2 linked regions of the Homo sapiens genome follow. The protein of the gene in region 2 interacts with the protein of the main gene of each other region in a biochemical or structural test. Each region holds a gene or a part of one and is shown on either strand. Other genes may lie near its edges.

What was found.
Region 1: of the proteins of CHRDL2 (region 2) and FAM20C, one has a biochemical effect on the other in vitro, tested with the Homo sapiens proteins (one large-scale study listed by IntAct).

What each region holds. Positions count from the first base shown.
Region 1 is NC_000007.14:244,306-248,109, reverse strand, and holds part of FAM20C (extracellular serine/threonine protein kinase FAM20C precursor), read right to left. Parts: intron 1,696-3,804; coding exon 1,603-1,695; intron 1-1,602. UniProt on the Homo sapiens protein: Golgi serine/threonine protein kinase that phosphorylates secretory pathway proteins within Ser-x-Glu/pSer motifs and plays a key role in biomineralization of bones and teeth.
Region 2 is NC_000011.10:74,728,396-74,732,689, forward strand, and holds the start of CHRDL2 (chordin-like protein 2 isoform 2 precursor), read right to left. Parts: upstream 3,032-4,294; 5' UTR 2,494-3,031; coding exon 2,412-2,493; intron 1-2,411. UniProt on the Homo sapiens protein: May inhibit BMPs activity by blocking their interaction with their receptors. Has a negative regulator effect on the cartilage formation/regeneration from immature mesenchymal cells, by preventing or reducing the rate of matrix accumulation.

The sequences.
Region 1 (3,804 bases), on a different chromosome or scaffold from region 2:
GAGGGACTGGGGCTGGCGATGCCTCACTGATGGGCACACAGCACCAACTGCCTGCATAGCTAAAGCCTGCCCTCATTCCAGGGCTAAATTTAAAACAAAATTAAATTAAAGGAGCCACTTTTAATGGAACTCCTTCTGAACCACACCACAGGCTCCCACTCGCTTAATTAAATGGAGAATGCAGGGCGAGAGCTTTTCTTGCTGACGGAGGACGTGGTGATTGTCCTGTGAGGCGAGGTGACCAGGTGTGGAGGGACGTGGGCCGTCTGCCAGGGCCGACCCGGGACCCAAGGCCCGACCACGCCTCTGCGTGGAGCACCCTCCCCCTCCACCTGTCAGACGGCTCGCCTGGGTGCTGGGCTCTGTGTCCTGTTTTATAAACAGGTGGACCCGAGGGGGGCTGTTTCCTAATGACCCTCCCCGTCTTTCTTTTCATAAAAAGCCCTTTTTGGGTTCAGGCTGTTCTAGATAGCTGAAATGGTGGAAAATCTGGCTTCTGGCGATTTCTATAGTCACCACAGAAGACTTTGATCTTTAAAAAAGCCCTTTAAACTCCAATGTACGCCCGCGTCACTAGGGATCTTGTTAAAATGCAGATTCTGTCCCAGGTCTGGGTGGAGCCCAGGACTCTGCATTCCAACTAGCCCAGGGCAACCCCAATGCTGCCGGCCCTGGGGCCGCACCCCAGGCTGGGACGTGTCAGGGCCGTGCAGGGCAGGCAGGGAGGCTCTGGGGGCTGAGGGTGGCGCCTCCTCCCTCCACTGCACCAGGGCAAGGTCCTTCAATCCACGGGGCCCCTCTGGACCTGGGCCAGGCCCGTTTACTGCCCTTGGAGGGCACTGAACACGGACCCCCCACTTTCCCAGCAGCAGGGCCAAGCTGACCCTCACAAGGGGTTCACTTTCTGCTGGGCTGGGGCGGCCCCTCTGGAGACAGGCGACCGTGGGGCCTCCCAGGCCCCCTCATCACAAACATCGCTTCCCCCTCCTTAGGAAGCCTGCTTTGGTCTCCCAGAGAAGCCTGTGCTCTGTGAGTCTCTGTGTTAAGATTCGCAGCACTTAATACTCCCCCTTCCCTCCCTGCCTCCTTCCCTCTTTCCTTTTCCTCTATTACCGACCGCACAGCAGCTTCTGTGCCTCCCATCTGCCTGAACTGTGGGGGTGCAGGAGGGGCCCATCTGGATTAAGGTGCCCTGAGGGCAGGCGCCCTCTCCCTCGGTGACAGAGGGATGATTAGGAGCGTGGGAACCTGGGCAAATCGCCGCTCACAGAGCCTCAGTTTCTCATCTGTAAAGGGGGATATGAAAGGCTCTCCCTACCGCGTGTTGTGTGGGCTACGATGACACAGAGGGCCCTGCTCAGGGCAGCACTCGGGGTGGGGGGAGAGCAGGCACCGGCGCTGCCTGATGGTGACAAAGGTGACGATGACATACAGGACCCTGCTCAGGGCAGCACTCGGGGTGGGGGGAGAGCAGGCACCGGCGCTGCCTGATGGTGACGAAGGTGACGATGACGTCCTGCTGTGTCCAGTGCAGGACGGCCTCACTCACCGGTGGGTCTGAGCGCACGGGAGCGCGGATGGAGGGAGGAAGGAAGGGCTCACCTGTCCAGGTGGAAGGCAGCAATCTCCGCATTGTGCCTCTCGTAGTCAGAGAAATAAAAAAAGTCAGGGGGTGTCTCCTGCTCCCTCGTTTGTCTGAGAAAACAAGACAGAAACAGAAACGGTTTGTCACTGAGAAAGCCTCCAGGGGCCGGAGGCAGGCGGGACGTGCTGGGTTCCTCATATGAAAAATGCGGTGGAGCTCCAGCCTCCTCAGGGCCACCCTGAGCCTTCGGGACCCTGGGCACCCAGCTGCCGACGGGCCCTCAGAGCAGCGCAGGCACGTGCGACGGAGGCCGGGGGTCCCAGCTCCCCGTGGCCCTGACCCAGCTGCCGACGGGCCCTCAGAGCAGCGCAGGCCCTTGCGACGGAGGCCGGAGGTCCCAGCTCCCCATGGGCCCTTCTCAGGTAAGCTGCTCAAAGGCCTCTCCTGCACTGGCTGGGGGCCCCGGCACGTCCACCCTGGGACCCACAGTCACACCGCAGGGGAGAGGCTGGGCTCGGTGTCCCAGGCCTGGCTCAGCCCCGGTTTGCTGTGTGCACCCTGGCACCGCCCACCCTCTGGTTTCCGAGTCTCCCCCACGGCCTCCAGGACCCCTTGGCTCTGCCGTGGACGCCTCCCACAGTAAGAGCCCAAGAAGGGCAATGTGGGCACCGCCCTGTCCCTCCACCCTGGCCAAGGGACAGGAGGCCACAGGTGGGGCTGTTTATGAAAGGTCAGTGCCATTCTGTAAACACCATAGGGCTCCTGTATCTCAGGCCAATACTCCAGGGGAAGGGGAGCCTAGCCGCAGGGCCCTGTGAGGTGCCGGTCCACGCAAGTGTTTGACCGATGTGGTCATGGTGGAAACGTGGAGGAATTGTCAAGGTCGTGTCTGAGCATAAGTGTGTAAGCGCGTAAGCGTGTAAGCGTGTAAGCATGCTTCCTCCACCAAGGCCGGCCCCTGCCATGCTTCCCCCACCAAGGCCGGCCCCTGCCTCCACTGGAGGGAGAGCCTGTCCCAGGGCGTCCACCCAGGCCAGGCCCAGGGAGGGAACTCAGCCTCCAACCCAGGCTTCCTCCACCAAGGCTGGCCCCTGCCTCCACTGGAAGGAGAGCCCGTCCCAGGATGTCCTCCCATGCCAGGCCCAGGGAGGGAACTCAGCCCCCAATCCAGGAAGAATTTACCAGATTCAAACTCTGGTGACCTTTCCAGGTGCTGGAAACCAGAGCTGGCGGGAATCCCCAGCTCGCACGCCCTGCAGCCCACACCTCCCACTCAGGGCAGACTGTGTTCCGTCTGGGCTCCAACACTCCAGCAATGCAGACTACAGACGCCGCCCCGGTCACTTTCCCAGCCCTCGGCTTCCCCGGCCGGGTCCTTCCTTCCATATACGCAGCGGAGGTCCGCCCAACTCCTGGGAGCATCCTGGCCCTGCCACGGGCCGACATCATCGCCACACGAACAGCGGGGTGGGGCACAGGTCCTGTATGTCATGTCCACGTCCCTTCGGGGGGACCACGTCTGGGTCACAGGCCGTCAATTACACACCAGCCCGTGGCTCCCGTCCTCCCACGCTGTTCTCAGAAAGCTGTGGCCACAATTCTCCGTGTTCCCGGAACGTTTCTTATGGGGGGTTAAAGATGTGTACCACCCACGGCCTTTTTAAGAACTAGTCTCTGCTGCTAGAAACTCTGAGAACAGACCACTTTCCACGATCCCACATAATATTCGCCTTGACAGGGCCCTGGGTAGGCGCAAGGCCAGATGAGGATTCCAGGAGCTACTTAAAAATAAAATGCGGATGGTGGGCTGGCGCCTGAAGGTCACATTTGCTTCATAACCCCACTGGGTCTGTGGCCATTGCTATCTCTGTGCACTTCTGAAACCAGCAGCAAAGGAGGGTTGGGGTGCAGGGCAGGGCAGTGGCAGGTATGGCGGCAAACTGAACATGCTGCCCGCCAGGGTCGCCCTGCAGAGCCGAGGCCCAGACTGGCCGGGATCCTGAGGTTCAAGAGAAAGAATCTAGACCTTGTGGAATCTCCCGGGTTTTAAGCGCTGGCAAATGGATTTCATTTTTCTAAAACACTAAAGGTCAAACCAAATGGTCCGCTGCAGTCAGCCCGCAGTTCCAGGGGTGGTAAATTCTGGAGTGTTGGATATTTTTGAGGTTAAAAAGCCTTCGTTGTTTTCAACTTGGAAGGATTGGCTTTGAGCAAAACTC
Region 2 (4,294 bases):
TATAGGATCCTTTCTAGATTCATAGGCTGTCAGCACCAAACAAAATGAGGCTCAGATAAAGAAGTGGTCTGTCCCAACTCACACAGCCAATAAGTGACAAATCAGGGTCCAGGACCCAGGTCTGTTCTGTTTTTTGTTGTTGTTGTTGTTGTTGTTTTTTAAGAGATGAGGTCTCACCATGTTCCCCAGGCTAGCCTTGAACTCCTGAGCTCAAGGGTTCCTCTCCCTCTCAGCCTCCCAAGTAGCTGGTGACTGGAACTACAGGTGTGTACCACTGTGCCTGGCTTTTGTTCTTTTCTTTAATAAATTTGCTGTGTGACCTTGGGCAAGTCACTCTTCTCTTCTGGGCTTCAATTTAACTCTAAGTATAGGTATATTGATGGGTAGAAGCAGATGGTTTTTGATAGTTTCACCAGCTCTAACATCCAGGAATCTTAACATTCTCCAATGAGTGCCAGTCCACCTCACCCTAATGAGTTGGCTCCAAGTCTTTTTCTCACATGTCTGGAGATCTGTATTTACAAGGCTGTAGGGAAGATGGAATACTGGCAGGACCTGCTGAGAGGTACAGAGCTGAAGGCCAGGGAGGCACAGACGAGGGAGATCAGAGTGGATCAAGTCACCGGGGAGAGTTTGCTTGAAGAGGTGTGACCTAGGCAAGGCCATGAAAGGCTGACAAGATATGGGAAGCAAAGAAGCAGGGTGTGGGTAGGATAACAGTCTGGTTCTAGGACATCTTTCCAAGATGCATCAAGGGCAATGATATCTGGAGAAAAAATTGCAGGGACTAAGAACAAGGTGTCAAGTGGATGGGAGGCAGGCATGGAGGGCATCCTGTGCAAAGTCTCTTTTAAGAAATAGGAGGCAGGTGTTAGGAGGAAACCCTCAGGGTTCAAGAAAGCGGAAGAGACATTTATTAAGTACACAGCATTGTGCTGGGCACTTTAATCCGTTACCTCCTTTAATCCTCCCAAGAACCCTGCAAGTTCTGGATTAGTATCTCTCTTAGACAGATTAGGAAATTGAGGCTCAGAGAAGTTATGACTTACAAAAAGTCACACAGCTCTAAGGGGCACGGCCAGGATTTGAATACAACACTGAGCTAATTCCATTACTTGTTCTATGTAATGGAAAGACTTATGTGAGTCTCATGCTGCTGGCAGGCCAGAGACACTCAGCCTGCTCTCATGAGCAGAAACAAGACCGTAACAAAGTCCAGCACTACCAGCTCCAGAATGTCACGTGCAAAAGAAAGGCATAGATGGAGGAGCTGAGCTGGGGAGAGGAAAGAGCACCAGACTAGGAGTTGGGAACGCAGGGTCTTAATCCCAGGCTGTGCCATGTATGTCCTGGAGAAACCCACTGCTTGAATGAAGCTCCTTTCTTCTGATTAAGAGAATGTGGTTTGGTTTTCCATCCTCACAGCATTCTAAGAGATTGGCTGGGCATGGGGAGGGGGGACCACCAGCCTATTGTGGGCGCAGTGAGGAAACTGAGGCTCAGATTGATGATGTAACCTGTTTGATGTTACACTGTATCTATGTGGAAAAGCATAATTGGGAACTGATTTTTTTTGGAAGCTATCAAGCACCAGTCTTGTGCTAGCTGCTTTACCTCTTTTCTCTAATTTAATCCTATCAACTCTCCTAGGATTTTTACTTCCGCTTTATAGATTAGGAAACCCAGGGTCAGAGAGGTGCACTCTGTGACGGCCTCCCAGCAGCTGGCATTCAGCGGGGCTGGGATGGTGAAGACGCTGGTCTATCTCACTGTGCCCTGCCGCCTCCCAGAGTCTCACACTGCAAATTCAGGGTTCCTTCTAGACAATGTGAGGCAGGGAATAAAGCATGGGATCTGGAACTAGAGTTCTGGCTTTGGATGGCTTACCCGCTCTGTAAGTTTTAGCAAGTTCCTCCTTGCTCAGCCTAAGTTTTCTCATCTGTAAAGTGCGAATGATAATACCCACCTCACTGGAGAGTTGCGAGGATCAAAAGAGAGAAAAGAATGGGAAGGTTATCCTAATTACCTCTCATTTCTGTCCAATGGCTCTTTCCAAAGGCAAAAAGCCTTTTCTTCTCCATCACACTCCTTACCTGTAGCCAGACATACCCGACTCCCTCCTAGGAACAGTAAGTCCTCCCCCAACCCAAAACACAGTGCCCTGCCCTCTCCCCCCGCTGCCCTTGGTGCCCCTCCTCAGGTCCCTGGCAGCAGCCCTCTCTCAGTTCTGAGTTGTGCCGAGTTCCTCCGGTCCCCCGGCCCATACTGGTCCTCACGGAGTCTCCACCCCTCCGGCACAGGTGCTGCCTGGACGGCTGTCAGAAGAGCTTGGGGTCCAGGTCCTGGCGCTGTCCCTCACATTCCAGGGGCCGCATCCCTCCTCTGCCCACCCAGCCTCCCGGTCTACTTACGGGCTCGAGCGTGGGAGTCCAGGGGGAACCAGAGCAGCGCGAGTCCCAGCAAGGAGGAGAGGACCCTCACCTCGGGAACCATCCTTTCCCCAGGGTCAGGCCGCTGGTCCGGGAGCGGAGTCGGGAGGAAGGGAGACGAAAAGGACACGGAGGCACAGGGGCCACAGATCAACCCACAGACCCCAGGAGGTCTGCTGCTAGAGCGGGGTCGGAGAAGGGCCAGGAAGCAGCGGTGGGCAGGAAAGGAGGGCAGGAAGGGAGGTCTAAGGTGGGAAGAAGAGAAAGGTGGAAAGAGAACGCGGGGAAAGGAGGGAGAGATGGAGAGACGAAGGAAGGTCCAGCAGAAGGGAGAGGCGATCAAAGAAAGGGGGAAGGTGAGAGGGAGAGGAGGAGAAAGCAGGGAGAGGACCGGCGTCTGCCGAGCGCGCAGCGCCGGGCGAGGCGCGCGGGACCAGCGGGTGTTGCGGGCGCGCGGGCTAGAGGCGGCCGGCGCCCCCTGCTCGGTGGGCTCGGGGTCGGGCCGCGGGGGCCTGGGGCCCGGCGGGGCGGCGGTCCCAGCAGCGGCGGCGGCGCGGCGGCCGCGGAGGGAGGCTGAGCGCGGGCCGGCTGTGCTCGCCAAGGGCTTCAGGCGCCGCGCTCGGGCGCATTTGTACTTTGCCGCGGGAAGCAGGCAGCCCGGCCTGGCGCTGGCCTAGCGCTGGCGCCTCCTCTGGGGCACCGCGGGCTCGGTGGATTGGCCACCCGAGAAACAGGCCCACTTTTTCCCCTCCTCTCTTGTGCGGGTCTCCGGGACGGACGCTCCAGGCGCGGCGCCGAGTGGAGGCGAGGGGGCTGCGGAGGGGGAAGGGGCCACGCGGGCCACGGGGTTTAACCCCTGACTCCCCGCGACGCCAAGAATGCAGGAGGGCAGAGTTGAGGGAGACCTCAGGTGGAACTTTCAGGTGGGGAAGGCTGAGCTGTCGGGGCTGCGGGTACCGGGAAGGCTCAGGGTAAGGCGCTCGGCGGTGCGTGCCCGGAACTCCGCAGATGGATGGAATCAGAACACTGGCGTTCTTAATTCAGTTTGTGGTCTACAGCACGCCACCGGAGAGTCTGTTTTCCCAGCTTTAAAATGGGCATTTTAAGATCTTAAAATATCTCTACTATCTTCCCACGAGTGTTGCTAAGATGAAATAAGGTAATGAACGTCGAAACACTCACCCCACAAAGAGAAGGGGTCCTAATTCCAGGTGCCTACAATACCAGTGGCCCCTGTCCCCACTCCGTCTGCCCATGCGCCATTCTCAGGAAAGTCAGCCCATAGGGATCCTGTGCCTTCCCCTGGAGGTCTTCCTCTGCTCCCCGCTCCCACTCCCGAATCAAGGCAAGATCTCTCCTTTGCCTTTGCAGGTGAGGCCTGCACTTCTCTGGGAGTGATGGTCACCTTCAGTCATCTTTAGGGAGAGCTGATTGTCAAAGAGTTTTCTTTCCCACCAGAAGGGGAGCTCCCTGAGGACAGGGCCCTGACACCCTCCAGCCCTCAAATGGTGCTCCATCTCTTGTGTTGAATGAACACATGCACTAATAGGACACTAAGAAGAGAATAGCCAGCTCTGGCCAGACCAGAAACACACAAGCTCTGAAATCAAAAGGGCAGAGTCACTGTCCTGGCTCCATCCGTAACTTGTTGGGCCACTTTGAGTAAATACATCTATCCTTGCTTTGGACCTCAACTTTCTGCCCAGCTTCTCTTGAAGAGCTAATGGAGACTCCAAAGAGTGCCAGAGGAGTATGAGGTGGGAAGGGATGTTGAGCCATATCCCACTCTGGTAGGGAATCATATTTCCGGGTTTAAACACTTGGCTGGCTGGCTGTAAAGGTATCTTTCTGGGCCAAGGCTGGGC